4 separate regions of the Homo sapiens genome follow, and regions 2, 3 and 4 are each linked to region 1. The links come from fine-mapping of genetic effects on gene expression. A gene starts in region 1. Each other region holds a variant in brackets. All regions are shown on one strand. Distances are from middle to middle.

Region 1 (8,108 bases):
TCGAACTCCCAGACTCAAGTGACCCACCCACCTCAGCCTCCCAAAGTGCTGGGATTACAAGCGCGAGCCACCACACCCAGCCAGTTTTGTGTTTTTTTTTTAAAGTTAATGATTGTATCTAGTACAATAATGCTTCTAGTGAGTATTCCGTGAAGATAATTATGCTCACCCATAATCAGTAAGCTTAGAGCTCAGACCATTTACAGAAGGAATGATTTAAGAGCAAGAGACTAAGAGATGTACTCAACTTAGTACTCAACTAAGTTACCCTGGAGTATTACATAGCTATGTAGAAGTTGGTTAGATTGATTTTGTTTTCCATTTGTATGCAGTGGTCCAAAATAGAAAGCAAAGGTGTACACAAAATTGGTTTCTGAAGGTGGACAACTGGTCTTTACATGGCTAGGAGTCTATTATGATTTTTTTTTCCTTTGATCATTTCGGTTACTCTCTCCTTGGGGCACAAATGCACCATGGGATATGAGAACAAGAAGGCTTCAGGAAAGTCAATCAATCTTGTCTCATGTAATGGTTAAGCACCAAAAATGGTGTCCTAGCAAGACTAAATACAAACAGTACTTCAGAATCTGAGAAATGGAAGGAACTTAGAGATGACCAATCCAAACCAAAATTAAGGAACAATCTGCCCAACATCCCTCCCTCCAGCTTTGGCTGAAAACATGATGATGAAGGGATAAGACCAACTCGACAAAAGAAAAAGCCTAAAATTTTAACAGAATGTGTTACAATACTATCTTAAATTTTTTAAAGTCTTGTATTATTCTTTCTTTTAATGATATACCATCATGACCAGGCGCAGTGGGTCACACCTGTAATCCATATCCCAGCACCTTGGGAGGCCGAGGCGGGTGGATCACCTGAGGTCAGGAGTTCGAGACCAGCCTGACCAACATGGTGAAACCCCATCTCTATTAAAAATACAAAATTAGCCGGGCAAGGTGGCTCATGCCTGTAATCCCAGCTACTTGGGAGGCTGAGGCAGGAGAATCACTTGAACCCGGGAGGCGGAGGTTGCAGCAAGCCAAGATCATGCCATTGCACTCCAGCCTGGGCAACAAGAGTAAAACTCCGTCTCAAAAAAAAAAAAAAAATATATACCATCATTTCACCCAATTTAATTCAACAGAGATTAACAAAACAGAAGCACCTTCACTCACTCAATTCAACTTAAAGACACTTATTAGTAAAGTCCTGTGCGCCAGACACCATAGTTAACACCAAATGTACCATTACTACAATTACTCTTAAAGCACGATCCCTGCAGCTAAGGAATATCTACTTTGTTCTCAATAAAGTGGTAACTGGTTCACGAAAAAGTAAGAGATAAAATACTGTTGACTCAAGGGCAGCTTGATATAAATCCCAGCTCTGCCACTAGCTGTGAAAGCTTAGGCAAGTCAGTTAACCTGTAAAAATAAAGATTACTCTCTATATATGGATATATAAATAATATATAACATTGTAGTTAATATATAATTACATACTATTATATTACATAATTCTACATTACATATATATTATATATATATAATAGAGTTATAAGAACAAAATGTGATATATAGTGGGCACTAGGTTGGTCTTAGTTTCTGTCATTTACCTTAGTTTCTGTCAGTTTACACGAGGTAAACTGACCCTAAAAATGTTTTTATATCTCATTCAAGTTTTGCCTATTACCTATCTTAATCCTAACAAGATTTAAGTTTGTTACATTTAAATTTAAGTTTTATACTTTTTTTTCCAGCTCTGTATTGCTGTATACAACTACTCTCTTTAGGGATATCTTATCTGCTATGCCCTCAAGATATTGTAAATACTTCAGTAAGAGCAAATTTTGCCTCATGCAAAAAAGAATTTTTTAAATCAGTGTGCATAAGAATGCAGAATATAAAGATGGTCTTGTCCTACAGATGTTAAGGTAACAGAACAACTCATAAAAAGACAGTCCTCTAACTCCTTTAGCTGAGATATGGTTAGCTTTGCCCCCATATATATCATCCCCTGCTCCAATCTCCAAAAACTTCCTTCTATGAATGTGTCAATAAGACTGATGATATTGCTATTAAAACTCAGAACTTGACTGCTCATTTATAAATTGAAAATTCAAAACGACAAAGCCCAGTGCTCGCTGATTTCTACACATACAGGCATAATAAAAGAGAACTACGCTATTACAAAGAACTATGCATCTGGTCCCGCCCCCAAATACTAGAGTCCAGTCGTAGGGGTCATTCTTTCACTCAACAAACTTTTTATTATGCGCCTACTGTGTACTAGGCATTGCACAGACAGTTAACAAAACAGACCAAAAAATCCTTTCCCTCCTAATAACAGGAGCGTGCCCGTAAAGGCTGCCGAGGGACCACGTCGTGGCCGCGCCTCCGTCCCATAGTGGTACTCGTACAGACAGCCCAGCCGGCCCACGGGCCGCCGAGACTTGCAGCCCTGACACACGGCCTTGGCCTCTGGGTTCCTAACCCGGACCCTGGGGCAGGCTGGGAAGCCCTCCTACCCCCACTGTCTCGCGCCAGCCCGGCCAGGAGGCCACGAGGGCCAAGCGCATACCCAGGCGCGCCCCCGCCACCAGGCGCGCCCCCGCGCCACCATCCGCCCGTCCCGCGCAGGCGCCGGCGCCGCCGCCCGTCTGGCGCGCGCCTGGCACGCTCTCTTGCGGCTCTTGACTGGCGGCCTCGGCCCCACTTGCCCCAGTTACACGCGGTCCCAGCCCCACCAGCCGTCGCCTCTTACCGGCGCGCTGGCCCCTGCGCCCCAGCCTCCCGGCTCCCGGCGGCTGCCTCGCGGGGCGCCTCCTCCTCCTCGGCCTCCGCGAGCGCCGCGGAAGCCCCGGCCACGGCCACGGCCCCGGCGTCCGCCTCCGTCCCCGCCGCCGCCTCCGCCGCCGCCTCTGGCTACCGCCGCTGCGGCTCCGGGCCGCTCGCTGTGGCGATCTCCGCCAGGCCGGCCGCGGCCTGGCCGCCGCCCACGGCCTCCCCGAGCTCCTCGCTCCGCCTGCATCTGGCCGCCGCTGGCGGTGCTGAGCGCGCGGGAGCCGAGCTGCGGCGGAGACGCCCTGGCCCCACCGGAAGCGGGCCGCACGGAGGAGCCGCGAGCGAAAGGCGCCCGGTAGCAGCGAGGCGCGGGGTGCGGGGCTAGGGATCGAGGCCGGCCGCAGCGGAGCGGGGCGGGGCGGGGCGGCCGGCGTCCCGCAGGTGGGGCCGGAACCGGGACCGCGGGAAGGCCGGACCGCTGGGAGCTGGAAGTGGTGGGGGTCTGCAGCGGGGCGGGGGGATTCTCAAGGCATCAGAGATAGGTTGGGGGAGAGACCGTGCTAAGTGCAAGGACGAGTCATAAAATAAAATTTGTATGATGTGAACTCTCGGAAAAAAAAAGTTTAAACGTATGTATTTGCATAAGAAAAGGTCTAAACAAATACATACTAAAATGTTAGTGGTTAACTGCTGAGATTTGAAGTGAGTTAATTTTTTTTCCTCCGTTTAATCTAATTTTCAGCAACGAATGTGTATCATTTTAAAACTATACCGAAGTCAGGGTTCAGGAGGTGTGGATGTAAAGACAAGAGTTTGTGTCTGGTGAGAGGTGGACTGCAGCACGTGGGAGAGAGAACAGTGCGAAACTGGGAGATGGCTAGAAAGGGCGTCAAAGTCCTCAGCAGAATTTCTGTAGAAATGACTACTACAGCTGACATTTATTGAGCACATGAGTATTTCATTCTCATAACAGCTCTATGAGGTAGGGATGACTGTCATCCTTATTCTGCAGTGAGGTAACAGCCTTGGAAAGGTTAAAAAAAACTTGACTAAAGTGAATAACTAGGTAGTGGTGGAACTGGCATTCTAAGGCGGTCTCACTCCAGTCCCTTCTTTCAACCAAGGAGAAAACAGGAAGGGGAACAGTTGGTTACACAGATGCATGAAAGCAGTTTTTAACTTGGGACTGAAACCACCTGAAAATAATGAAAGCAAGGGCTAAAATGTCAGCCTAGCAGAATAAGTGTTTTCTTCCCCCTCAGTACTTTCTGGTTCTTTCCTATATCCATACATAGTTAATACTTTTCATTGCTTCTAATTGCCTACTCTGCATCAGGCACAGTGCTATGTCCTGAAATTAAAAACAAAAACAAAAAAAAAACCTTGCCCCTGCCCTCAAGTAGCTCACTGCCCACAAGGAAGATAATCTAGTCGTGTGAATAGATGATTACAGTACCGTGTTGCTGAGTGCAGTGAGAGATTCAAGATCAAGGTCCAAAGAAGAAAAGTTAAATTATATTTAAACGGGTTACCCAAGGCTTCATGAGAAATAGACCCCTGAGCTAAAGCCTAATGGTTGAGTAGGAGTTTGCCTGGTTGGTAAATGGGAGTAGGGGCGCCTTCCAGACAGGGGGAACTATTGAAGGATTGTCAACTCCAGAGAAACAGTCTTAAAAATAGTAACACTTGTAGAGCACTTATATGCACCAAACACTATTCTACATACTTCTCATATCACTTCATTTGGGACTAATAGCTGGCCTACGAGGTAAGCTAGTGTTGTCTCCATTTTACAGATCAGGAATCTAAAACAGATGTTAAGTAACTTCCAAGATTACACAGTTACAGGCCAGGTGTGTGGTTCGTGCCTGTAATCCCAGCATTTTGGGAGGCTGTGGCGGGTGGATTGCCTGAGACATGAGTTCAAGATCAGCCTGGGCAACATGGTGAAACCCCATTTCTACAAAAATTAGCTGGGCATGGTGGTATATGCCTATAGTCCCACTACTTGGGAGGCTAAGATAGAGAATCATTTGAGCCCAGGAGGTTGAGGCTGTAGTGAGCTGTGATTGTACATGGGCAACAGAAGGAGACTGTCTAAAAAAAAAAAAAAGATTTCAACATGAATTTTGAGGGAGATGAACATTTAGACCATAGCAGTGGGGAAGGGGCATGGAAGAATATGGTTAAATATCTACCAGCATATCACTGGTCTGGCCTCTCACCAAGTTGAAGATCCACACATTAATCTCAAACTAGACATTTGCACAAATCGGAGTTTCTCAATGTTGGCAAATTTAGGGCTGGGTAACATTTTGTGGCGGTAGCTTATCCTGTGCATTGTAGAATATTTAATAGCATCCCTGGCCTCTACCCACTAGATGCCAGAATGAACCCCTCTCCCCCTCATTAAGACAACCAAAAACATCTCCAGACATTGCCAAATGTTCCCTGAGAGGCAATCACCCTGGATGAGAACCACTAGCACAGATAGATTGGTGCAAAAGGTACGTTTTAGTATCTAAGGAGCTACCGATGTAATTTATCCAAAAATTTATCCAGCCTTAAATTTGCCAACATTGAGAAACCCTGATTTGGGCAAATGTCTGGTATGAGATTAATATGTACATCTCCAATGTAGTGAGAGACGAGACCAGTGGGAAATAGGGCTTTAAGGAACTATATAACTATCCCTTGAGAAGCCTCCAAAATTATGAGGTTGAAAAGATCAGTGGCTTGCAGATTAAGCCAGTGTTATTAGGGCACATTCACTATGCTTGATACTTTCAACTAGTCAGTGTAAGACTCAGTAACACTTTTGAAAGGTATGCCATTTTAGAGAGAGATTGGTTTGTGGATGATGCCAAGTTTTTTTAACACTTATTTTGCACCTGATACTATTCTAAGCACTTTCCACGTACTAACTCATTAAATCTTCAAAATATCCCTATGAAATAAACACTATTATTATTCCTATTTTACAGATAAGAAAACTGAGTTGCAAAAAAGTTAAATAATTTGCTCAAGCTAGTAAGTAACAGAACTGGGATTTATACCAGTACAGTCTAATTCCAGAATCCATGCCTGTAAGTCTATTCTGCAGATGCCCTCAGAAGTCCGGGGGTATGTTACTCTCCATCTGTTCATTCAAGGCGTATCTTGTTTTTCTCAATTCAACCAAGAGTGTTTAGGATAGGAAAATTCTGAGGTCCCCCTTCTAGCACTTCCTAATTAGCGGACACAACTAGCCAAAGTTCTTTCAACAAGGATACGGTATATGCTGTCCTCGTGTGATTCTGGTCCAAAAATGTGTTATTAAGGTTTAAAAATACCACACAAGTACCTCCTGCATTTTGAGCAACCAGAGACCTTTGGATTGCATAAATAACAAAGGGAAGGAATCTTTTCTGGTATTGCTTTTGCTTGATAGTCCTGATTTTAAACATATGCCATTGCATGAATAAAAAATTCAGTTTTCCCTTAGGTAGGACTCATGAGAATTCATGAGTATCAAAACCAAAGTGCTGAATTATATAGGTAGCTCCTTAGAAACGAAACTGTACTTTTTGCATATTTTTAATACATACATGACCTAAGTTTTTTTTTTTTTTTTTTTTTGAGACGGAGTTTCGCACTTGTTGCCCAGGCTGGAGTACAATGGCGCAATCTCAGCTCACCACAACCTCTGCCTCCCAGGTTCAAGCGATTCTCCTGCCTCAGCTTCCTGAGTAGCTAGGATTACAGGCATGCACCACCACGCCCGGCTAATTTTTTTGTATTTTTAGTAGAGACGGGGTTTCTCCATGTTGGTCAGGCTGGTCTCAAACTCCCGACCTCAGGTGATCCATCCGCCTCAGCCTCCCAAAGTGCTGGGATTACAGGCAACAGCCACCGTGCCCGGCAACCTAAGTTATTTTTTAAATAAAATGGTAGCCAATTCCTTAAGGTAGTTGTTCTCAAAATGTAGGCCAGAAAAATAGCATCACCTGGGAACTTGTTAGAAATGCAAATTCAGAATTAAAACTCTGGGGATGAGGCCCAGTAATCTGTGTCTTAATAAACCTGCCAGTTGATTCTGATGCATCCTCAACTACTGTGTCAAGGTAGCATCTGAGCCTTCAAACATCACAAGAAACCCAGTAATTCCTAGTCTAAGACTATGGATTGGCCAGGCGCGGTGGCTCACGCCTGTAATCCCAGCACTTTGGGAGGCCGAGGTGGGTGGATCACGAGGTCAGGAGATTGAGACCATCCTGGCTAACACAGTGAAACCCCGTCTCTACTGAAAATACAAAAAATTAGCCAGGCATGGTGACGGGCGCCTGTAGTCCCAGCTACTTGGGAGGCTGAGGCAGGAGAATGGCGTGAACCTGGGAGGCAGAGCTTGCAGTGAGCCGAGATCACACCACTGCACTCCAGCCTGGGCGACCGAGCAAGAATCCGTCTCAAAAAAAAAAAAAAGACTATGGATCTCATAGGCTTTCACTGTTTGACGAAAAGTAGATGTTATGATAGGACTTAGAAAAAAATGCACTGTCCTCTTGCAAATATAAAGTTTGTGGGGAAAGTACCTCTTCCTGATTCTTCTCTTCATAGGCAAGCAGATTTTCTATAGTTTAGCTAGTTTCTCGTGCTTAATATATAAACAATGCAAACTGGAAAACACATAAGTTTCTCAGAAAGATGTCTTTATTTACTATGTTGTTTTGAACAGCTCCATCTACTACTGAGGGTGCTCACCAGCTACAGGGGGAGAGACTCTGGCATGAGCTATTCTTTCAGCCTGGAATCCACAGCCTGTACTCTGGTGGAGAAAAGGGAAAGTGAAGAGCTTACCAGGTCATAAGTCATAAGGGTACTTTGACTTGAAGGGCTGGAGTCATGATTAGAGAACTCCTGAAAATGCATGGAGCAAACTCCCAAAATACAGAATACATGACAATATCTTCTCCTCTCTCCTTCCACCCTCACTCTCAGCTGCTGACTTTGCTTTCTATTTCATGAAGAAATGAAAGCAACCAGAAAAGAATTTCCAGTGTTGCCATTACCACAACTCCCAGCCTACTTGTATCTGTACCTATATTGTCTGCCTTCCTTCCTGTTAGTATAGAGGGGTCTCTGTCCCAGTCCAAGGCCAAGGCCTCTATTACTGCACTAGATCTTATCTGTGATCACCTACTTGGGGACGTCTTTCCAGCAAATGCTCCCACTCTCCCCTGCACATCAGTTGGTACCTTCTAATGAATCATTCACATTAGCATACAAGCATGCTGTATTTTCGCCCTTTAAAAAAAATGAAAAAAAAAAAAAACTTCTTGGCTT
Region 2 (8,108 bases), 25 kb after region 1:
GAGCTTGCAGTGAGCCGAGATAGCGCCACTGTACTCCAGCTTGGGCAACAGAGCGAGACTCCGTCTCAAAAAAAAAAAAAAAGATTTTTTTTTTCCCTTTACCGCCCATTATCATGTCAAGGTGGTGTTTGTTATATATCATCAAATTTATGTTGTATGCATATATATCTCTAGAAGGAAAAATAAATGGTAGCAGTGGTTACCTCTGAAAATGGGGAGCTTGCAAGCTTGGAGGTCAGAGGTGGGAGGGAGACCTAATTTCTACAATTTACCCTTTAGTACACACTGAAATCTTTATCATGTACATAGATTTTTTAATCTACAAAGGGAAAATTTCATTTTAGTTTTGAAAGTTAAAATTTGTCAACAGAGGGTTAATTAAATATAGTACATCCATTAAGTGGAATAATGTACAGTCATTACAATGAAAGTGGTAGCTCTAGATGTACTGATAAAAAGCTGTCTGTGATAATTCATTTGTTAAGTAAAAAACAAAATTCAAATTGTAAATGGTAAAAGGCACCCATTTAAAATAATTATTAGTATATGCATAGGGGAAATTGTATTTAAATATTTATTTATTAGTATATGCATATGGGAAAATGCCAAAATATACACTAAACTGTTAGCATTGATTACCTCTGCAAGGTGGAATTAGAGGAGACTTTTGCTTTCTAAGATTTACATTTTGACATTGTTTGAGCTTTTATAAGGAATGTATTACTCTATAACCAGAAAAAAGATAACCTAAAACAATTCTATGATATTGCAAATAGTTCAGGAACAGAGAGAAGGTCCTTATCTTCAGCAGCTGGGGCAAATGTAAAACCCCCTAGATGAAAACCAGATATGCACTTGGAGTTTGTGCATTAGGGCAAGGAGAGGTGGTATAATATGGTCTTGGCTCACAACGGCACCTCAGTAATGTTTAATAATCAAGACTGGGACTATAGAATAGATACCACTTTTTCCCCAGTGCATGACGATTTAGGTATTTATCACCAGGATCTTAAAAATATAGGGTTTCAGCCCTTATGATCATTGCAATCTAAAGTGATTTAACATCCCTGCTTTCCTCTCTTTACTGCTTCTCAACAATCCATTTTTTTTCCTTTCCCTTCACCCTCCTCGTCTTCCCAGCCCTTTTTAAAATTGCCACAAGAGGGCAGCAGCCTCATGCATAAGAAGGGCACTCAGCCATAGGTAACAACAAAAAGCAAAAGGATGCCATTAAAAATAGGTGATCAAACTTTAGAGATTTCAGCATCTTGCTCTGAATATGTGTGCAGCCACGTTTAATATTCCATTAGAAACTATAAACAATGGGCCGGGCGCGGTGGCTCACGCCTGTAATCCCAGCACTTTGGGAGGCCGAGGCGGGTGGATCACGAAGTCAGGAGATCGAGACCATCCCGCCTAACACAGTGAAACCCCGTCTCTACTAAAAATACAAAAAAATAGCTGGGCGTGGTGGTGGGAGCCTGTGATCCCAGCTACTCGGGAGGCTGAGGCAGGAGAATGGCCTGAACCCGGGAGGCGGAGCTTGTAGAGAGCTGAGATCGCACCACTGCACTCCAGCCTGGGTGACAAAGCGAGATTCTGTCTCAAAAAAAAAAAAAAAAAAAACTATAAACAATGGATGGACAAGAAAATCATGCTGGTGTGCGAAGCTAATGTGTTTCCCTCTCTTCCAGATGCTGGCCAAGAAGAGCTGAAATAGAAAACAGCCTAGAACCTAACACTATTTACTGTAAAATTTTTGCACCAGGATGGAAGGGGATTCTTACCACAATGCAACCACCGTCAATGGCACCCCAGTAAATCACCAGCCTTTGGAACGCCACAGGTTGTGGGAAGTCATCACCATTGCAGCTGTGACTGCTGTGGTAAGCCTGATCACCATTGTGGGCAATGTCTTGGTCATGATCTCCTTCAAAGTCAACAGCCAGCTCAAGACAGTTAACAACTATTACCTGCTCAGCTTAGCCTGTGCAGATCTCATCATTGGAATCTTCTCCATGAACCTCTACACCACCTACATCCTCATGGGACGCTGGGCTCTCGGGAGTCTGGCTTGTGACCTTTGGCTTGCACTGGACTACGTGGCCAGCAACGCTTCTGTCATGAACCTTCTGGTGATCAGTTTTGACCGTTACTTTTCCATCACAAGACCCTTGACATATCGGGCCAAGCGTACTCCGAAAAGGGCTGGCATCATGATTGGCTTGGCCTGGCTGATCTCCTTCATCCTCTGGGCCCCAGCAATCCTCTGCTGGCAGTACTTGGTTGGGAAGCGGACAGTTCCACTGGATGAGTGCCAGATCCAGTTTCTCTCTGAGCCCACCATCACTTTTGGCACTGCCATTGCTGCCTTCTACATCCCTGTTTCTGTCATGACCATCCTCTACTGTCGAATCTACCGGGAAACAGAGAAGCGAACCAAGGACCTGGCTGACCTCCAGGGTTCTGACTCTGTGACCAAAGCTGAGAAGAGAAAGCCAGCTCATAGGGCTCTGTTCAGATCCTGCTTGCGCTGTCCTCGACCCACCCTGGCCCAGCGGGAAAGGAACCAGGCCTCCTGGTCATCCTCCCGCAGGAGCACCTCCACCACTGGGAAGCCATCCCAAGCCACTGGCCCAAGCGCCAATTGGGCCAAAGCTGAGCAGCTCACCACCTGTAGCAGCTACCCTTCCTCAGAGGATGAGGACAAGCCCGCCACTGACCCTGTCCTCCAAGTGGTCTACAAGAGTCAGGGTAAGGAAAGCCCAGGGGAAGAATTCAGTGCTGAAGAGACTGAGGAAACTTTTGTGAAAGCTGAAACTGAAAAAAGTGACTATGACACCCCAAACTACCTTCTGTCTCCAGCAGCTGCTCATAGACCCAAGAGTCAGAAATGTGTGGCCTATAAGTTCCGATTGGTGGTAAAAGCTGACGGGAACCAGGAGACCAACAATGGCTGTCACAAGGTGAAAATCATGCCCTGCCCCTTCCCAGTGGCCAAGGAACCTTCAACGAAAGGCCTCAATCCCAACCCCAGCCATCAAATGACCAAACGAAAGAGAGTGGTCCTAGTCAAAGAGAGGAAAGCAGCCCAGACACTGAGTGCCATTCTCCTGGCCTTCATCATCACATGGACCCCGTATAACATCATGGTCCTGGTTTCTACCTTCTGTGACAAGTGTGTCCCAGTCACCCTGTGGCACTTGGGCTATTGGTTGTGCTATGTCAATAGCACTGTCAACCCCATCTGCTATGCCCTCTGCAACAGAACCTTCAGGAAGACCTTTAAGATGCTGCTTCTCTGCCGATGGAAAAAGAAAAAAGTGGAAGAGAAGTTGTACTGGCAGGGGAACAGCAAGCTACCCTGAAAAGTCAACAACTCCTCTCGAAAGAACAATGACCACAGTCAACATCCTCTGAGGATGAGCAAGCTGATTCTGGTTTGTATATTTTCAAAAAGAAGACATCTCATTTTGAGTCCTTGAAGATTTTTGTAAAGGCTCAAGTTTGGTTGCCAAATGGAAGGGGCCATAGCTGCAGCAATTGCTGACATATTAAATGACTCTTGCCTATGACCAAGGCCATTTGATGCCAGGGGAGTTTGCCAATGAAGTAAAGGGATAGGCTCATGGCCCTTCACAAGAGGAAGCACACTGGGTAACAATGAACAGTGACTCAGGGAACTTATGCCCCTTCTGTAGGAAACAGCAGAGACCAGGTGGAAACCTTTTCCTGTGGAAACCTGTCATAGAATTTTGTGCAATATGTATGTGTCTATGAAGCTGTCTTGTGCCAGTGAGAACCAGCAGGAGAATGTACAACAGTGTCACTTGTTAACGAGACTGATATTCAACAGGCTTCTAAGAATATGTATCTTCATAAACTGATCACTATCTATTATGCAGCTATTATGTGGTCTATACTATACTGTGGTTTGTTTTCCTGTCCCCACATCTGAGTGAAGGTCTTGCTCTTCCCTTTCATATCCAATGTCAATTCCTTGTACTCACTGAACCCATGCTGATCTCCAGGGAACCATCCTTCCTCTCAGAATCCAGAGTCTGGAAGGACTGAAACCTGGTCATACCCAGTCCTTTCAAGGGGCCTCTTTTCTACTAATAAAGATGGATCAAGTCTCCACAGTCAGTTATTTTAGTTTTTGCCAGTGGAAATTTTTTCTTTTATCTAAACAGATATTGTGCATTCTATTTTGTGCCCATTTGAACCCATTTATTTATGCTCTGTTCTTAGGAAGACTAATTGTGTAAGAGCCCTTCACTGGCTGAAGATTTTCTCCAGGCTGTTGAATTAAGGTTCTTATATTGTTTTCAGAGATCTTGCTTTCTAATCTCTTCACAGGGCAAACCTGAGCAAAATGTGGAAAACAGATTTGCTTTTGAATTTCTTCCAGAGCCCTTTTGCAGCCTCCAATTTCCCTTGTTCAGATCCCCAGTTCACACCAAGACGCAAGCAGGTCAGCTGTGCTGCCTCCAAGCAGGGGGTTGTGGGGTGAGGTGGGGGTAGAAAGTCTTTTTTTATAGGTCCTTCAAATCAGGGCCTAAAAATGACTTCTTTATTCCTCTCCAAATTCGGTCACAAATGAGAAGGCCAGAAAAGCACACTTGAGGGTGCGATGAAGCTGAAAATGATCTGAAAGCTTCATTTTTAAAAACAAA[G/C]TGTAGGTCATAGTAATACATAAAAATAAAACAGTTGACATGCATGACAGCATGAGGATTATTAAAAACCACACTTAATTGAAATCTCTAAGTGCGTATAAACAAACGGAATCAAAGGACCTTTGTGGACAAAAGTCCACAAAGAAGCAGTAGTGTGGTACACAGCAAGGATTTTAAAGATGAAGCACTCCTGTCAGACATTATTTAACTCGTTGGTTACATCTGCAGCTGGACTTAAAAATCACCAGACTTCATGCGTCTTAGTGTAGGCCGGGTCCTTTTCAGTCTCATTTGCTAAGAGGATGGAAAATTAGCTGGTTTAGTTGTCCTGGGAATTAGATATGTACCTGAGTATGGGAGAGCTTCAGCCTACCACTGAAGAGCATCATCAGCCTCTCACAGGATGTCCCACGGAGGCTTCAGGGTAGTAGAATCTCAGGCAGGACGGGACTGGTCCCTTATAAAGACTTCACGTTGACATGAAACATCTTGTAAGCAGTGCATCTGCTGAGCCTTTGTAAAGGGCAGGTTGACACCTGCAAAGAATTCGGTGGGAACAGTAATTGGCTCAGTTCTCCAGCACAGAGGCTTTCGGGCCTCCGTGATGCCAACTGGGTGTGACTTCATGAGCAAACCTGCTCTACCAGCGCCAGATAAACAGTTGAGTCTTCGTTTAAGGCTTTGATTCCTGATAAAGATGAAAACCCCTTCATGAGAATAGGCTTTTAAGCCCATGTTGGGCATTCACCATTCGCAGTTGAGAGTGAAACAAGCTAATTTAAACAAAAGAACACAAATCGGGAAAGGATGCCATGGAGGGCACTCCTCGCACACTCCGCACTTGCTTAGGACTTGGCCTTTTTTGTTCATCTTTTGTGAAATTGATTAAGAAGTGTATTGCTGGGTGTGGTGGCTGACACCTGTAATCCCAGCACTTTGGGAGGCTGAGGCAAGAGGACTGCTTGACCCTAGGGGCTCAAGACCAGCCTGGCAACATAGGGAGACCCTGTCTCTACAAAAAAAATTTTAAATACCTGGGCATTAGCAGGGCATCGTAGTGTGTGCCTGTAGACCCAGCTACTTCAGAGGTTGAAGCAGGAGGATCGCATGAGCCCAGGAGTTAGAGGTTGCAGTGAGCTATGATCACACTACTGCATTCCAGTCTAAGTGACAGAGCAAGACCCTGCCTCAAAAAAAAAAAGAGAGAGAGAGAGGTCAATGCTTCTTTTTTTATCATTGGTTTTGGAAAGCAGCCAGTTTTGCAGACTACCTATGCCTCTTGACATAGACAAAAAATATCCCAAACTACTAGGGACAACTAGACTTCTATAGAATAGCGGCTTTAGTGGGGTCCTCAGAATGAATAGACCTAATTGTAAACTACAGGGACCTGATGGGTGGGTGGGAGGCGCATGGCCTGACTTGAGATCTTAGGCCTTCTATGCCCCCAGTCTTCCAGGCTTTGTCTATAGTAAACCATGTATGACTTTGGCTAGTTACCTACTGGATGCTGTTACTTTGCTATCATTGTAATTTGTTTCCCCTTGGCTGTGAATTTGATGACTTGTCAGGGAATCTGTTTTCCATTCAATTTTTGGTTGAACAAAGCATTTTGTCAATATTCTCAGCTTTTGCTTCGCTCCTTTGGTGAATGTCCTTTGAAGACAATACTGATGCCAGCTCTTTGTAATTGTGAAATCTGTACCCAAACCTCTGGATTAGAATCTCCAGTTGTCTACTGTAAATACTGGAATTACAGCAAAGGATATGGGGACTGGGCTGCTTTTCTGTATTGTATAAGCACTATTCTAGATATTAAAGAAATTTAACCGCACAGTGGTCCAATGCAGAGCATTTAAATAAGAAAATTGTTTCAGAGTAGCCTATTAGATCCATCTATATTGGGTTTCCCACACACCTTTGCATGGCCTGGCCTTTCAAGAAAGTTGGGATTGATACACAGTATGGATACACGTCCTTCTTGCTACCTTTTGTGATTCCTCCTTCCCTCTAAGTTACCAATGACCAAACTAAGATTAAATAATGATGACAAGAGATCTGTGAGTAAAACGCTTTCCCTTCCCTATGGGACAAGGGAGGTGGGGCAGACCTGAAACCACAGTCCTTTACCGAGTGGAGACTGCACAAAAAGGGGCAGCAGCATTTCCTTGTCAACTATTTAAAGAGTCGGTGCCCCACTCCATTCCCATTGTAAGTGATACTAATTTCCATCTTCCCCACATCATTTTACTGGTAAAGTTCAAGATTATGTAAACTCTTGCCCAATAAAGACCCCAGATCGAGAGTGAGCGGAAGAAGGGAAAAAAGTTTAATTGTCAAAGAAGAAGCTGGAAGCAATTAAAAACAAAACAAAACTTTTTTGAAATCATTTAAAATTTACAGAAAAGTTGCAAGAGTAATAAGAAGAACTCCTAATGTCCTTCACCCACATTCCGCACTTAACGTTTTGCCACATCTGTGCCTGCTCTCTCTGTATGTGTGTGTGTGTGTGTGTGCACATTTTTTTCTCAACCATTTGAGAGTAAGTTGCAGACCTCTTGCCAATTTACCACTAAATACTTCTTGAGTGTGTATTCCTTTTTTCATTCATTTTTTTTTTTTTTCAAGACAGGGTCTCACTCTGTCATCCAGGCTGGAGTGGCAGCTTCGACCTCCCAGACTCAAGTGATCCCACCTCAGCCTCCCAAGTAGCTGGGATTACAGACGCACGCCACCACGCCAGGTTAATTTTTTCTACTTTTTGTAGAGACAGGGTTTCACCATGGTGCTCAAGCTAGTCTTGAACTCCTGGGCTCAGGCAATCCACCCGATTTGGCCTGGCAAAGTGCTGAGATTGCAGGCAGGAACCACCGCGTCTGACCTTAGAGTGTGTATTTCTTAAGAAGGAGGAGATTATTTTACATAACCTCAATACAAATATAAAAATCAGGAAATTTGACATTGTTACAATGTTATTATGTAATCTACAGTCCACACTCAAATTTTACTAGTTTTTCTATTTGGGAAACTAATATATGTTCATTATAAAAATTTATTTTCCAGTTCAATATCTAATCCAGGATCACACATTGCATTTAGTTGTCATGTCATGGTTAGACTTATTTAATCTGTCTACAGCTTTTCTGTCTTTCATGATATAGTCATCTTTTAAGAGCACCTACAATCCAATTTTTTTTTTTTTTTTGAGACGGAGTCTCGCTCCTTTGCCCAGGCTGGAGTGCAGTGGCGCAATCTCGGCTCACTGCAAGGTCCGCCTCCCGGGTTCACGCCATTCTCCTGCCTCAGCCTCCCCAGTAGCTGGGACTACAGGCGCCTGCCACCACGCCCGGCTAATTTTTTGTATTTTTAGTAGAGACGGGGTTTCACCGTGTTAGCCAGGATGGTCTCGATCTCCTGACCTCATGATCCACC
Region 3 (8,108 bases), 28 kb before region 1:
TCTCTTAAAAAGAAAAAAAAAAAGAAGAAAAATAATGCCTGAAAACTTCCCAAAGTTGATGAAAAACCTTTTTTTTTTTTTTTTTTTTTTTGAGACAGAGTCTTGCTCTGTCACCCAGGCTGGAGTGCAGTGGCACAATCTCGGCTCGCTGCAACCTCCGCCTCCCGGGTTCAAGTCATTCTTCTGCCTCAGCTTCCCAAGTAGCTGGGACCACAGGCGTGTGCCACCATGGCAGGCTAATTTTTTGTATTTATAGTAGAGACAGGGTTTCACCGTGTTAGCCAGGATAGTCTCAATCTCCTGACCTCGTGATCTGCCCGCTTCAGCCTCCCAAAGTGATGGGATTACAGGCGTGAGCCACCGTGCCTAGCCGATGAAAAACCTTTATACATCCAAGAAGCTCAATGAACTTCTAGTGTATATGCAAAGAGATTCATAGATACATAATAAAAAAGCTAAAAGCCAAAAACAAGGATTCTGCAGACCCACTCCATTTTGTTAAGATAAAATTAAAACACACACTCACACGTGCGCGCGCGCACACACACACACACACACACAGACCATCGAGAAAACACTGAAAATCAAGAAAAAGGAAAAACCAACTCATCACAAGGCAACCCAAAGAAAATTAATGGCTAACTTCTCATCAGAATCAACGGAAGCCAGAAGGCAATAATATAACATATTCAAAGTGTTGCTAGGAAAAAAAATAAACTGTCAGCCAAGAATCCTACATACAAAAAAGCTATCTTTCAAAAGTGAGGGTGAAAAAAAGACATTCCCAGATAAACAAAACGTAAGAAAATTTGCTCTAACAGGCCCACCTTACAAGATACACTAACAAAGTTCTTCAAACTAAAAACAAGTGGTCCTAAACAGCAATTCAAATCCACATGAAAAAAACAAATCCACATGAAAAAACCAGTAATTATGTAACTATAAAATATCACATAAATGCATATTTCTTCTCTTGTCTTCCCTTTACTGATTTTAAAAGCAATTCTATAAAACAATATGTGTATAATTGTATTGCTGGGCCTATAACATAGATTTTTTTAAAAAATCAATATCCAACTACAGCTGTCTACAGGAGATTCACTTTAGATTCAAAGATACAAGTAGCAGTAAAATAAAGAAAAAGCATAAAAAAATTCTATGCAAACACTAAAGAGCTAGCATGACTACATAAATATCAGACAAAATAGACTTTAAAACAAAAATCGTTATAAAGACCAAGAAGGCTGTTACATAATAATAAAAAGGTCAATCAAAAAGATATAACAATAGGGCCAGGCACAGTGGTTCATGCCTGTAATCCCAATGCTTTGGGAGGCCAAGGTAGGGAGGGTCGCTTGAGGCCAGGAGTTTGAGATCAGCCTGAGCAACATAGAGAGCATTGCTACAAAAATAAAAATAAAAAATTAGCTGAGCATGGTGGCATGAACCTGTAGTCCTAGCACTTGAGCCCAAGAGTTTGAAGTTACAGTGAGCTATGATCATGACACTGTACTCCAGCCTGGGCAATGGAGTGAAACCCTGTCTCTTAAAAGAAAAAAAAGAAACATAATAATTATGAACATATAAACATATGCTCCTAGGAACACAGCTTCACAATATATGAAGCAAAAACTGACAGAATAGAAGGGAGAATAGAAAGTTTAACAATAATAGTTAGAAACTTCAAGCCCCTACCTTTAATATGGATTAGACTGACTAGACAAAAGGAACCATATGCTTAACAGAAACAATAAAAAGATTTACTTACTGAAGCTACCATCCTATTTAACTTACAATAAATAAACAATAATTTACATTAATTTATAATCTGCTTAATTTAACTGGCCCACCTATGAACAGTATATTTGGACAACCTTATTCATTAAATATCCTACCTTTTCTTTCCAAAATAAATAAATAAATAAAAGAAGTTGCCAAGAGAATACTTACAGATTATCTCTATCACCAAGAGCCTTCAGATGAGCCAGTAAAATTTCAGAAGTTATTAATACTAATAACATATAACAACCAGACAACAGATCCTATTTAAAGCCTTTTATGTTTAAGAACCTAGTTTTTGCAGGTCCCTGGTTCTACTTTCTTCTGGAGCAAAAAGGTATAGAAAAGGCTTTCCTGTTTTGAAGCTAGTAAGGAGTTCAAAAACATTCACACCATTTTTCACCCACCTCCTATGTTCCTCACAAAAGGTAAATTATATCATAGAGGTGAATAGGTAGAATAGAAAGAAATGAGAAAGAACACATTTAAGGAAACCCTCCAACAAAAAAGTCACCAAAAACTAATCACAGTGATTACTAATGTCAAATATTCTCAATTAAAATTTTACAATGTGTATAACTGAAAAATAATACTAATTCAGCCCATTTCAAAATGTTTAATGTTACTGAGCTTTAAAATATATAACTGATTAATAGTTAATTGCCAACTTTTATATTTGTAAACCTATTAAGGTCATTTTTATCTTATATAATCATTTGGACCATAAGCAACAACTTACACTACTTTTTTCACTATTAAAAAACATTATCTTTTTAACAATAGAAAAACTCATAAACCATCATAATTAAAGAATTCAATGACAGTTTTCGATATTTGAAAAGTGTGCTAGGGCCGGGCATGGTGGCTCATTCCTATAATACCTGCACTTTGGGAGGCCTAGGCAAGAGGATTACTTGAGCCCAAGAGCTCAAGGCTGCAGTAAGCTATGATCATGCCACTGCACTCCAGCCTGGGTGACAGAGCAAGACTCTGTCTCAAAAAAAACTTTGTTTACTAGGCCTATACGAAAAAGGAAAAAAAGGCAGGGGGAACTACGCTAGCAAAAACAATTCTTTCAAGAAGTGAAATTTCAATAAAACATTGAATAAAAAAGGATACGGATATACAAAAAAGGGCGTTTCCATTTGTCTTTGTGTATTAAATAAAATATATGTTGTATATTAAATAAGATATGCATGATCATATTTGAAAAAATTAATAAATGCAGTATATGGCATATATGTGAATTATCTCTTGATCCCAGAACAATGTACATAATAATAAATAATTGGGCTCCAAAATACTGTGGCCATTAAGAATGGGAATAAAATGATCCACATGATAGTCAAATTCAACTGTTTCTCTAGCAAAAGAAGTATATACAGCTGTCCTTCCTTGTGGTCAGTATATGGAAAAAGCAGAGGGGAAGGGAGGAGAGAGGCATCCCACAACCAAGAAAATGGGAACTCAACCCTCAGTGCAGCTGTTCAACCACTCATCTCACAGGCCTCTCATTCCATCTCTCTCTTTCCCTAAGTCCTTATATCTTTCTCATGTGTGTCATTTTGCTTCCAAGTCGGCTAAAACTGGAAGGCACAGGAAGGTAATTTGCATCTGTAGGCAGCCCACACCAGGGACAGACTATGGGATTTCTCAAAGTCAAGACCTTGCGAGTTCTATGCTTCAATGACTTAAGGATAATTTGGGAAATTAGACTGGAGTAACTTTTATTGGACTAATTAGTGATTTTAAACTACAGTTTGTGGAGGTCCTTTTAGGGAGTCCTTGTAGAAAGGAAGGGGGAAATGGCAATAGAATCAGTTTCATTTTATCTGCTTTAAAAAATGAGCTTCTTATAAGAATTTGGGACTTCTGAAGCTTTTTAACAAGGTTTGGAAATTACCAAATTAAGCCATTTTGCAAGTCCCAACTCCCAGGTAAAGTCTATGAGCTAGATTACCATCAACAACTTTTCTAGTAAAGAAGGCATTAAATGGTCCTATATAAAGACAATTTGCTTCTTGACGTGGTTATGATCTGAGAGAAAAGATACCGTTTTGCTTTGCCAATCTATTTAATCCACAGACACACACAATAAGTAGTGACACAACTAGAAGGCCTATAAGTAAAACATTTCCTTTGTTAAATCATATGATTAAAGGTCATCTGTATAAAAAATATCTTTATATAAATACCCTGAGCATTTCTGGGTGATCTTGGTGTGCAAAATATATTTACCTGAACCATTGCCACTGACCATTTACTGTTTTTCTGAAGGCGGAAAGGGATGCTTCAGGTACATCTGCCTCTCTGTTCCATTTTTGCTGGGATTTCACTGCATATGCTTAATGCTGCAAATGGCCAGATTTTCTTTTGTCTCTGTCTCAGTTAAATTTTCAACTCTCTTATCTACCAGCGTAAGTCTGGTTTCCTTAGTCACTCAGGTTTTAATGTCATCACATTCCACTTTCCAGAAAAATCAGACCATTAAATAGCTGTCTTCTGGCCCACTTGAAGATATTTTCCAAACTCTCAAGTCGCCAGAGGAAGAGAACTTTAACAAGTAAAGCATTACTGAACTAGAAGGAACCTAGATAGGTCAAGCCTCTGCCCTCAAGCAAGAACATGCAGAAATCACATTGCACCAGTCTGTCCTACGGCTAGGTTCTGGGGTTATGTTTACTCTTCACCTAAGTTAACCATTATTTTTTCCTTTATAAGCACAAATTTCCAATTTCTTAATCATTGTCATGGTCTGTTTTAAATTTCCTAAATTCCCCACCAGCTTTTTTAATGGTTATAATCAAAATGAATGTAGCATACTAAGGACCTGACCAGTGTCTCCTCCTATCACAGTGGTTTTTTTGTTTGTTTGTTTGTTTTTTGAGACAGAGTCTCACTCTGTCGCCCCGGCTGGAGTGCAATGGCGCAATCTTGGCTCACTGCAACCTCTG[C/T]CTCCTGGGTTCAAGCGATTCTCATGTCTCAGCCTCCTGAGTAGCTGGGATTACAGGCGCGCGCCACCACGCCCAGCTAATATTTGTATTTTTAGCAGAGGTGGGGTTTCACCATGTTGGCCAGGCTGGTCTCAAACTCCTGATCTCAAGTAATCCATCTGCCTTGGCCTCCCAAAGTGCTAGGATTACAAGTGTGAGCCACTGGGCCTGGCCAAATGTTTTAAATAAAATGAAAATAAAAACAGTCACCTTGATAGTTCCTTCCCAGGATAAACTTATTTCTTTAAGTACAACTCTAAGTGGCACTTATTGTTACATTTGTCTGTCCTGCAATATGTCCACAGAGAGCTACTTTTGCTCCTTGCACCACTAAATTGCCAATATTCATTTAACAGTGTTTCCTGAGTAGTTACTGACTTCCAGCACTGGATCAGGCATTGGGAATACAAAGACCAATAAGCCAAGGGCCCAGGCCTCAAGAACTCACAGTGCTGTGGGAAACACGGAGAAGTAAACATATATAGTGTGATATCAGCTACTATAAAACATTCACAAGATGTTACGGAAGCACAGAAAAAACATCACCAATGGGGGAGAAGGGGGAATGGGGGACATCTTCAGGACCAGGCTTGTGAGCCAGTGGGAAGCAGGAGGATGACATCACAGGCTGAGGGAAGAGTATGTACGAGGACCCATGAGCGAGAAACAGTTCTGCTCTAGATGTAGACTCACGGCCTGAGATGAGCCTACTGAAGGAACGGCTGCTATCTTCCGCCTGCTGACTCTTCCCAACCTCAAGAACAGAGGGAACTCACATTATCCCCTGCCTTGGTATTAGCAAAGAACGTGCTTCTAACCAAGAGATAACAGCTGTTCAAAACAAAACCCGGGGAGATCAACAATGGGAAATTTTAAAAAAGAAAAACACATTTAGCTGGGCACAGTGGCTCACGCCTGCAATCCCAGCACTCTGGGAGGCCAACATGGGCGGATCACCTGAGGTCAGGAATTTGAGACCAGCCTGGCCAACATGGCAAAACCCCATCTCTACTAAAAATATGAAAAATTAGCCAGGCGTGGTGGCACGCACCTGTAACCCCAGCTACTTGGGAGGCTGAGGCAGGAGGATTGCTTGAACCCAGGAGGCAGAGATTACAGTGAGCCAAGATTGTGCCATTGCACTCCAGCTTAAGCAACAAGAGCGAAACTCCATCTCATTAAAAAAAAAAAAAAAAACAAAAACAAAAACCACGTTTGAGGATTCTGGGAAGATGGCAGCAGCAGCAGTATGGTTTTCCCAGGTCCCCTGATAAAAAATACAAAGAGCAACTAGGGTAACAAAATCAAAAATCCATGGGAAACAGCCACAAAAGCCTAGGTGACAAAGTATCTCCACAAAGTCCCAAAGATGAACAGGTACAAATCACCAATAGTCACAAGACCTGTAAGGTAGGTACCAGTGTCTGTGAGAGGAAGCAGAGATGGGATCAATGCAGCATCTGACAGACCTGGGCATCCCAAAACAAACAACAGGCACTCAACTGGAAAGTTCAGCGGGCCCATCTGGGAACAGCGGCTAAATATGTTGGGTCTACTCCAACAGCTGGTGAGTTCAAGGAATTTGCAGCTAAGGCTGAAGGAGCTGAGAATGTGGCCCCTTGACCTCTCAAAACTAACTGGCCAAAAGCTCTTTTGCCAGACAAAACTCCACTCTGAAGAAAAACTCCTGGGGGCAGAATTCAAATTGAGCAGAAGAGGAATAATAAAAGATAAACAGAAAGGAAGGGTCAGATACAGGGGGTGAGGGGTGCCGGATTTGAGAAGCAGGGACCATCTTTTTAATCACTTCAAGACAACAGAAGACTTCTGGTACTCTAGAGTCCTGAAGCCTGAAAAGCTGTCCTTAACAGTGTGTCTCCCTTCTAAAAGCTGGGAAAACTGGCTTTCCATGAAGATGAGCAACAACAAAGGATCACAGTCAAATCCCATTCAAAGCTGTTATCATAAGGAAAAAGATAACAAAGGAGCACTTTTTAAAAAATTCCACAAAATAGGCCGGGCGCAGTGGCTCACGCCTGTAATCCCAGCACTTTCGGAGGCCAAGGCAGGCGGGTCACGAGGTCAGGAGATCGAGACCATCTTGGCTAACACAGTGAAACCCCACCTCTACTAAAAATACAAAAAATTAGCCAGGTGCGGTGGCGGGCACCTGTAGTCCAGCTACTCGGGAGGCTGAGGCAGGAGAATAGCGTGAACCCGGGAGGCGGAGCTTGCAGTGAGCCGAGATCGCACCACTGCACTCCAGCCTGGGTGACAGAGCGAGACTCCATCTCAAAAAATAAAAAAAAATAAAAAAATTCCACAAAATATCCAAAAATGTTTTATTATAATACAATCTCACTGTTTTAGGATAATTTGGGAAATTAAACTAACTAAAAATTCCACCCTCGGTCTTTAGGAGCTAAGAATAAAAAAGTAACAGTTGTCAGCTCTCAGTCTTGCTCAGAAACAGCAACACATGAGGGAAAAAAAAGTGGGTAGAGAGACTCTAACAGACAAAAAGGTAAACCAACCCACAAAGCTAATGTTCAATGACACGTCTCACACGGATCTTCACTCCATCCCTTTCCTTCTCCAAGTCCTTATATCTTTCTCATAGGTGTTATTTTATTTCAAAGATAAAATGATAAAAATGAGAGGCATGAAAGAGTAATTACCATTCGTTAGCAGAATCAACAATTGGAGACAGTACATTCCTGGCTCCTTAGATGCACTCTTAACTTTCCTTCAAATAATACACCCTCAGATCTGAACAGTAACCATTATGTGACATAAAACTGGAAAGCGGCTGGGCGCGGTGGCTCATGCCTGTAATCCCAGCACTTTGGGAGGCCAAGGTGGGCGGATCGCCTGAGGTCAGGAGTTCGAGACCAGCCTGACCAACATGGAGAAACCCCGTCTCTACTAAAAATACAAAATTAGCTGGGCATGGTGGTGCACGCCTGTAATTCCAGCTACTCGGTTACAGTGAGCCAAGATCGTGCCATTGCACTCCAGCCTGGGCAACAAGAGCAAAACTCCATCTCAAAAAACAAAAACAAAAACAAAACCGGAAAGCAACTTATCTCTCCTAGGTTCTGCATTAGAATGAAGTGCACAGTACTATCAGATCAACAAAACAACAGACTTTTAAAAATCTTATTATGTAGTAAACTTACAATACTAATAGACACTGAGTTGGGCTCGCATGGGTACTGACCTCTCCATCTCACCTGGTCAATTATCTGCTTCCTGGTACTTGATTCTCTGCATGTGGCCACATGACTCTTTTTTCTTACAAATTTCCCCCTTTCCCTTCATACCACACTTCAGTCA
Region 4 (8,108 bases), 190 kb before region 1:
AAACATTTTACTTTTATATTGTTAAGCACACATAAGAACATATAAAATGTATATGTACATTTTACAGTATAATTATAAACCAAAAAGGTTAAAAAAATAGAACATTACTGAGAGCTTAAAAATCCCCTGTATTATCCTCCCTGATTATATCTTCCCAACCCACAGCTATCTACATTTTTGATGTTCATTAGTGGTTAGTAATATTAATTCTTAAATAATTAGCAATCAGTGATATTAGTGATATTCATTCTCCTGCCTTATAGTTTTCCCACTTAGGTATTTGTCCCTAAATATATTTTGACTATTTTGACTATTTGGAACTTAATATAAGTGGAATTATACTATATACATTATACTGTCACTTGAATTTTTTTTAGCATTGTTTGGGAACTCACCTATGTTGATGTATATAGCTATAGTTTGTTCATTTTCAAAGCTGTAGCATTTTCCATTATGTATATTATCACATTGATCAATTTTCCTGACAGTAGATATTTCAACTTGTTTTCTAAAGTTTCTGGCTTTTATAAACAGTGCTACAGTGAACATTCTTATACCTGATACACAAGTTGAAGGATTTCTCTAGAGTATAGACCCAGGAGAGAAATTTGCTGAATAGTAGGATATGCAAAATGTTTGTCCCAATTTATGCTCCAAACAGTACTATATTCGAGTTTCTTCTTCTCTGCTTATTTGCTGGCACTTATTGCTGGCAGATAATTTTGCTGATCTAGTAGGTGTATAGTGGCACCTCATTGTATGTTTCCCTGATTACTAAATGGGTTAAGCATCTTGTACTTTTTCCCTGAACATTCATGTACAGATGTACTCTTTATTTATGCACTTTCCTTCTGAAGGTCTGTTCTCTATGCCACACTTTAAGGACTCGTAACAAGTAAAAAATCTGTTTTCTACCTTCAAGGAGTTTGCATACCTAGTCAGGGGACAAGAAATTCAGAATGCTCAGATGAAGGTAAGACCGCATCTATGAAGGGGTCATGCCCAGAGCCTGTGGTCCTTGGCCCTTCAGCATCACTCGTGGAATCTTCTGCTTAGGAGAAAATGCGACCAGGCTGAGTTGTATGTTACCATTTGTATAAATGATTTAAGAGAAAGGAGGTATCAGTGTGGCAGAGAGCGCATGGCTTGATTTTTATTTGTTTTATTTTCAATTTAAATGCAGTGCATAAAAAAATCAAGGAGCAATGTACAAGGAAGAAAGTCAAAATAATTGTTATTTTCATCCCCCAGAGATAAAATATTAGCAGTTTACTCTGTAACACCAGCATTTGTTTTTGCTTTCAAGTGGCATTTAAATGTTTAAGACAAAGAAACTGCTTTAACAAACCAAAAAAAAAAAACATTTTTTTTTAAATACTGCCACCCTGTTGGGGGAGAGGCGGCATGAGAGGTCAGTGAATAGTAGGAGGTCTCCATTTCCTTATCACCAACTTGGGTGGTCTCTGGAGAATAGGGAACTGTTGTGTTCTAGAACCAAAAAGAATGAATCAAATAAAGGAAAACAAAAGTAAGAATGCATGCACCAAAGGCCAGAGACTCCTAGGCTGCAATCCAGTCTTACAAGGAACCCCCCCACAGGAAGGATTCAGTAATTCTGGATAGGAACAACATATTTTCAATGGTTTTTGCAAGCATTCCTGAAGATGACAGTTCTTTCTTAACTTTAACAGTAAGAAATATTTGCAGTGGAGCTGGTACAAGCTACAGAGAGAAGAAAGATCATCTCTCTGGGGATGCTAGGGGATGGTACAGAACCATCTCCAAAAAAGAAAGGGATCCAACTCCTGGAGGAAAGCAGGCCCTGTGGCATTACGTGGGAATAGAAAATAGAGTGGAAAAACACTCAGCTTAAAAAATCCAATGTAAATAAACTAAAGGTGATTCCCAGACTGGAAACTGCATATAGTTAGGGACTTTATCTACACTTTCTACCACACCCCACATCCCGCATCGCCATTATCTACCCCAGTAGGTGACATAAAGTAGTGACTCATTGAATGGAATGCCTGTGTTTTCTGTAGCATTTTGTTTCTGGTTATACTGGGATTAGGGAAAGGACTTAGAAACATACAACTGTCTCTGTCTAATCTGTCATCACAATTCTTGGCTCCAAATCATAATTCTGAGGCAGAAACTGCCCAGTGGCCTTCTGAGTGTTTCAAAAGCCAATACAAAGTAATGAAGCCATACATGACTCAGTAGAGCCTGTGATGACTCTGAACTTCAATCAGATCTTAAAATTCTTTGGTGAGCAGGACACAAACCAGAAAGATCCCAGATCCAGGCACTCAAACTGAAACGTTTCTTGATGTGTTTTCCTTGATGTTAAGAATGAAGAACCAACCTTTTTCGTTTTGTTTTTCAGATCTTTTCCTAATAACTACTGGGACAAGTTTGTAAAGAGAAAGGTATGCCTTGTTAGTGGGGGTGAGTTCCGTGATCACCAAAAAATGTGGTGTATGTTTTTTAAGTTCTCCACATACAAACATGAGTAAATGTGATGCTACTTTTATGATAATATCTCAAGAAGAGTAAGTCACAGAAGGGGTTGGATATGAACATATGTAGGTTTTTGGCTTCATTCATATACTCATCTGCCTTAAACAAGTTAACACAGTCCTCATTGTTTTCTGCATAGTAGATGTTTTCTCCCCTGCAAATCAAGATATCAGTATCAGCTTAAAAAACAGTTATCATTTAATTGTCTTCATTGCTTTTTTCTCTGGGTTTTCTCTTTTTTCTGCATTTTGAACTATGTCTTCATCTACCCCTTGGAAGATTGCCCATAGGGCAGCAAAGCTCTGAAGACCCCAGAGCTAGAAAATATTTGGTGGTGGCGTGTGGCCTGAGCTCACCCTGTCATCCTTTGCTTCAGGTGATCAACAAGTATGGAGATCTCTACGGAGCAGAACGCATTGCTGAACTTCTGGGTTTGGACAAAAATGCTCTTGACTTTAGCCCAGTAGAAGAGACCAAAGCAGAAGCGGCTTCTCTGGTGTCATGGTACAAAAAGCTTAGGAGTTCAAATCCAAAGCAGCTAAAATAGATAGATCTTTGCTTTTCCATAGGAAAAAATCACAACCGTGTCTTTGTTCTCTCAGGCTGTGGTCTGGCTTAGGTGTTTCTTCTAGGTTCTAACACTGGGAGAGCACTGCCTTAAAAATTTGAAGACTAATACATTTTTATGCCCTATAGAGCTGAAAGATAAAGACTTAATTAAAATTTCAGGTTGGGCTGGGCGCAGTGGCTCATACCTGTAATCCCAGCACTTTGGGAGGCTGAGGTGGGCAGATCATGAGGTCAGGAGTTCGATACCAGCCTGGCCAACATAGTGAAACCCCGTCTCTACTAATAATATTTTTAAAAAGTAGCTAGGCGTGGTGGTGGGCACCTGTAGTCCCAGCTGCTTGGGAGGCTGAGGCAGGAGAACCGCTTGAACCTGGCAGGTGGAGGTTGCAGTAAGCCAAGATCACGCCACTACACTCCAGCCTGG[G/A]TGATAGAGTGAGACTCCGTTTCAAAAAAAAAAAAAAATTCAGGCTATGTGATTCAACTGTTCTCTTGTCTCATGGGGAGCACATACAACTTGATAAAGCTGAGAGCCATATTTAGGTTATTAAACCTGAGAGAAAAAACTTACTTTTTCCCCCTTATTGAGCACTTAACTACCTCTTGACATTTATAAGTTTTAAAATCACTTGTTCTTCTCTAGGCTAAGTTCCATAGACATGAAGTACCATATCTGGAAGCTTGGAGTTGTTTTTACTGACAACGTAAGTACTGCACCTGGAAAAACAAAATTCTATACCCCAGTTCAGGGATGCCACAGAGAAGCAAGCTATGCAGGATGCTCAGAAGGGTTCAGGGATTGCTTATCAAAGACCAAGAGCCTTATACGTGCTGGGGGAACACTTATACAATGGTATAAGGTAGATGGGGCTCACTTAGCAGATCTTGGGCCAGCTCACAGCACCTCAGCACCTAAACCCCCTCTATCCTCAGTGTGTCTCCCAAAATAAGAAAAAATGTTTTATAATGAGCACACTATGAGGCAAACATGCTTAAAAGTCTGCTTTCTTCCATTCCCAGTCCTTTCTCTACCTTGCCTGGTATACAACCATGTCAGTCCTGGGCCACTACAATAACTTCTTCTTTGCTGCTCACCTATTGGACATCGCAATGGGCTTCAAGACACTGAGGACCATTCTGTCATCTGTAACTCACAATGGCAAACAGGTATGGTTTCTACTGATGCAGAACAGAATGGACCTGTATATGCACAGGAAAAAAAGAACAGCAGGTAGTATACAGTATATGACAGGAAGGAATATGTCTTGGTATATAATGTACTTTTCTTGGCCAAACACTTCAACTAATGGTGATTGTTTTTGCAAAATTGTAGCCAATTAAAAATGTAACTGCAACCATCATCTAAAAAGCATAAGACCTTGATTCAGTGACCCCTGACATTTAGATCAACCAGGAGAGGGAGGGAGGTGATGGACATGTCAGAATGACCTTGGAGATCTTTTTTTTTTTGTGACGGTGTCTCGCTGTGTAGCCCAGGCTGGAGTGCAGCGGTGGGATCTTGGCTCACTGCAACCTCCGACTCCCAGGTCCCAGTTCAAGCAATTCTCCTGCCTCAGCCTCCAGAGTAGCTGGGATTACAGGCACATGCCACCATGCCCGGCTAATTTTTGTATTTTTAGTAGAGACGGGGTTTCACCATGTTGGCCAGGCTGGTCTCAAACGCCTGATCTCAGGTGATCCACCCGCCTCGGCCTCCCGAAGTGCTGGGATTACAGGTGTGAGCCATCGTGCCCGGCCGGAGATCTTTTTAAGGTCTACCCCTTCCTCCATGAATCTGATATATTCCCTGGGGGTTAGCAAGTAGACATACTGTACACAGAAAACTCCCCAGGTATTTCTGATATCTGCATCCAATTAAGAGCCAATATTTCTGATATCTGCATCCAATTAAGAGCCAATGATTTCAGATACACACACACATATGTATATGGTTGTTATACACATAGTACACATTTTATGTGTGTATATACATTATATAGTTAATACATATTATATAGTTAATATATAATCAAGAAATTGACTCTGACAATATATGGAAGACTGGATATTGATGAGACTGGATATAGCAACGGCTATAACCATATTAAAATCTTCTAATGGCTTCTCCTTGTATACAGATTCAAACTGTTTAGCATTTCATTCCTCATTAAGTACAAGTCTGTGTATGACAGACAGGCTTCCTCACATGTCCAAACCTTTGTACGGGAGAGGGAGAAAAGACGGAAGTTACAGTGTGCCAAGCTCATGCCGTGTCCCAGTTACTGTGACAGCCTCACAACTACCTGGTAAGGCACACGTTAAGCTCACTTTACAGATAAGAGAACTGAGGCTCAGAGCAGCTAAATGTCTCACCCAAGACCACACAGCTGCTAAGTGGCAGAGCGTAGATTCACCCCCTTTTCTTCCCTGATGCAAAGTCCAAGTTCTTTCTCTTTTTTTTCCTAAACCACCTGCTTTCTGTGAGGTCTGCTCTCCAAGGTTTGAGTCACTATTCTTCCCTCAAGTCTGCTGAATACATTTCCTCTGGTGCTGATCTTCACACTTACCCACTCCCTTTTGTGTGGCTCCTTGAAGGCAAAGCTCTGATCCTGTTGATCTTCCTATCTCCCAGCTCAATGCCTAGTCCTTGAGAGAGGTCAGATGTGCAGGTCCTGTGTACTCCTCACTTAAGCCAGTGAACTCTCACTCCTAAAGCCTGGAAGTAAGCGTGCCCTAGGACACTGCAAAGGGCCTGGGCAGAATTCTCTGTAATAAAAAGTGTGACTCAGCTCCACCATCATAATTCTTAGAGTAACTTCAAAGTTGTGACAATTATCCAGTGCATGATTATTTATGAAATAGTATAAGGTAGGGATATCCACCAGTCCAAAGAACCTTTGGGTTTTTTGTTTGTTTGTTTGTTTGTTTTTTTGAGACGGAGTCTCACTCTGCCACAAGGCTGAAGTGCAGTGGCGCGATCTCAGCTTACTGCAACCTCCGACTCCTGGGTTCAAGCGATTCTCCTGCCTCAGCCTCCCAAGTAGGTGGGATTACAGGCACACACCACCACGCCAAGCTAATTTTTGTATTTTTAGTAGAGACAGGGTTTCACCATGTTGGCCAGGCTGATCTCGACCTCCTGACCTCGTGATCCGCCCGCCTCGGCCTCCTAAAGTGCTGGGATTACAGGCGTGAGCCACCCCATGCCCGGCCTGGGGTTTTTTAAGCAGCAGCATTAGAGTAGAAGCTACATTGTGAAGCCTCAGGTAACAGCTAGCTCTGTATGAACAATAACAAAACACAATGTATCCCTCCTCACAGCACCTGCACTATTCAATACTTAAGTTCCTTTATATTTTACTTACGCCCAATCTAATGCCCTATACATTAGTCTGCTTGGGCTGCCAGAACGAAGTACTACAGACTGCTATTTTGTTAAACAACAGAAATGTCTTTTCGACAGTTCTGGAGGCGGTAAGTAAGTCCAGTATCATGGTGCTGGCAGCACCAGCACCTGGTCTCCTCAGGGGCCTCTCTGTGGCTGTAGACAGCACCCTCTCGCTGCCGCTTCCCCTGACCGTCCCTTCACGTGTGCCTGTGTCTAGCCTCTCTCTCTGTGTCTCCAACTCCTTTTCTTCTAAGGATGCCGGTGAGATTGGTTGCGGGCCCATCTTAACAACCTCAGTTTAACTTACTCACCTCTTTGAAGGCTGTATCTCCATCTCCAAATACAGTCACATTCTGAGGTACTGGAGGCCAGGACCTCAGCATATGAATTTGAAGGGACACAATTCAGCCCCCAACACCCCATCATTACTCTTTTCTGCCAGGAAGCCCGCTTCTCTTTACCTGTGGTGCCATCTTTCCTCCTCTGCTCATGGCCTGATAGCTTTCTTAGCCGCCCTCCACCCCTTCCCCATTTCCTCTCCTTGCCCGTCCTCACTCTTCCTCCTCGTTTTCTTAGAGTCTCCTGTGAACCTTTCAAGGTAGAGAAGACCCCACTCCTTTTCCTTTCTCTGTCCTCTCATTCCCAGTTGGTTCTGACTGTCGGTCTCCTGGCCGTGGTGGTTTATCTCTATACTGTGGTGGCTTTCAACTTCTTCCGCAAGTTCTACAACAAAAGCGAAGACGATGACGAGCCCGATATGAAGTGCGACGACATGATGACGGTGAGAGCCCACCCACTGCGGGGCCAGCCCACCCACTGCGGGGCCACCCCGCCCCACCACCTCACTGGGAAGAAGGGCTGTGTGGGGGTGCTCTTGAGAACTGTAGAGTTAGTTACAGAGCACAGCAGAGATTAAAGTAGAAGACAGATGTCTTCTCCAAACAGGAGAGTGTCCTGGGAAGACAGAAGTGATGGAGGTAGTTTTCATTACCACACATCTAAGCCCCGTGGAAAGGGAAGCACCCTGCACAGTGGCGTCATCATTCATCTATTTCCGGGGTAAAGATGAGACATTATTTTATTTTTTTGAGATGGAGTTTTGCTTTTGTCGCCCAGGCTGGAGTGCAATGGCGTCATCTCAGCTCATTGCAACCTCCGCCTCTCAGGTTCAAGTGATTCTTCTGCCTCAGCCTCCCTAGTAGCTGGGATTACAGGCATGCACCACCACACCTGGCTAATTTTGTATTTTTTTTAGTAGTGATGGGGTTTCTCTATGTTGGTCAGGCTGGTCTCAAACTCCCGACCTCAGGTGATCTGCCCACCTCTGCCTCCCAAAGTGCTGGGATTACAGGCGTGAGCCACTGCACCTGGCCAAGATGAGACATTATTATGAATGAAACCAGTGTCTAAATTTCATGGAAGTTGAGCTTTGATCATCGTCTCTCAGAACAGAGAGCAAAGTCCCATGGACCGGGATTAAGCACTTGATTTATTTCAGCAAGCCAGTCGGAGGTTCTTTGCGGACAGCCAGCAGCAGGATCAGGTTGGAGGTGGGGAGGGGGAGTCCCGTCAGGCCAGATCTTCGTGAGAAAAAAGGCACTGCCCAGAGTAAGCCAGCTTGGCTGCAGCAACA

What was found. PIP is the estimated chance that this variant, and not a neighbour inherited with it, causes the effect.
Region 2: its variant is fine-mapped to the expression of AVEN in subcutaneous fat (GTEx, PIP 0.99).
Region 3: its variant is fine-mapped to the expression of AVEN in spinal cord (GTEx, PIP 0.97).
Region 4: its variant is fine-mapped to the expression of AVEN in whole blood (TOPMed, PIP above 0.99).

The regions. Positions count from the first base shown.
Region 1 is chr15:34,036,014-34,044,121 of GRCh38, forward strand. AVEN (apoptosis and caspase activation inhibitor) reads right to left here and starts at 3,191. Exons shown (of 6, transcript NM_020371.3): 1 at 2,767-3,191. The coding sequence starts at 3,033. The region is part of intron 1 of CHRM5 (cholinergic receptor muscarinic 5); the gene reads left to right. RefSeq lists silencers at 2,164-2,223, 2,574-2,633, 2,724-2,933, 3,114-3,283.
Region 2 is chr15:34,060,949-34,069,056 of GRCh38, forward strand. CHRM5 (cholinergic receptor muscarinic 5) reads left to right here. Exons shown (of 3, transcript NM_012125.4): 3 at 1,695-6,510. The coding sequence starts at 1,770. The coding sequence ends at 3,368. It also overlaps a transcript of AVEN not described here. Among named protein-coding and RNA genes, the nearest start is that of AVEN, 26 kb to the left of the region's middle. The variant G/C (reference allele first, on the strand shown) is at 4,677.
Region 3 is chr15:34,008,416-34,016,523 of GRCh38, forward strand. All of the region lies in intron 1 of AVEN (apoptosis and caspase activation inhibitor), which reads right to left. All of the region lies in intron 1 of CHRM5 (cholinergic receptor muscarinic 5), which reads left to right. Among named protein-coding and RNA genes, the nearest start is that of AVEN, 27 kb to the right of the region's middle. The variant C/T (reference allele first, on the strand shown) is at 4,734.
Region 4 is chr15:33,850,659-33,858,766 of GRCh38, forward strand. RYR3 (ryanodine receptor 3) reads left to right here. Exons shown (of 104, transcript NM_001036.6): 95 at 2,387-2,429; 96 at 2,897-3,024; 97 at 3,731-3,791; 98 at 4,108-4,254; 99 at 7,122-7,256. It also overlaps a transcript of AVEN not described here. Among named protein-coding and RNA genes, the nearest start is that of CHRM5, 110 kb to the right of the region's middle. RefSeq lists enhancers at 2,324-3,523, 7,663-8,108. The variant G/A (reference allele first, on the strand shown) is at 3,515.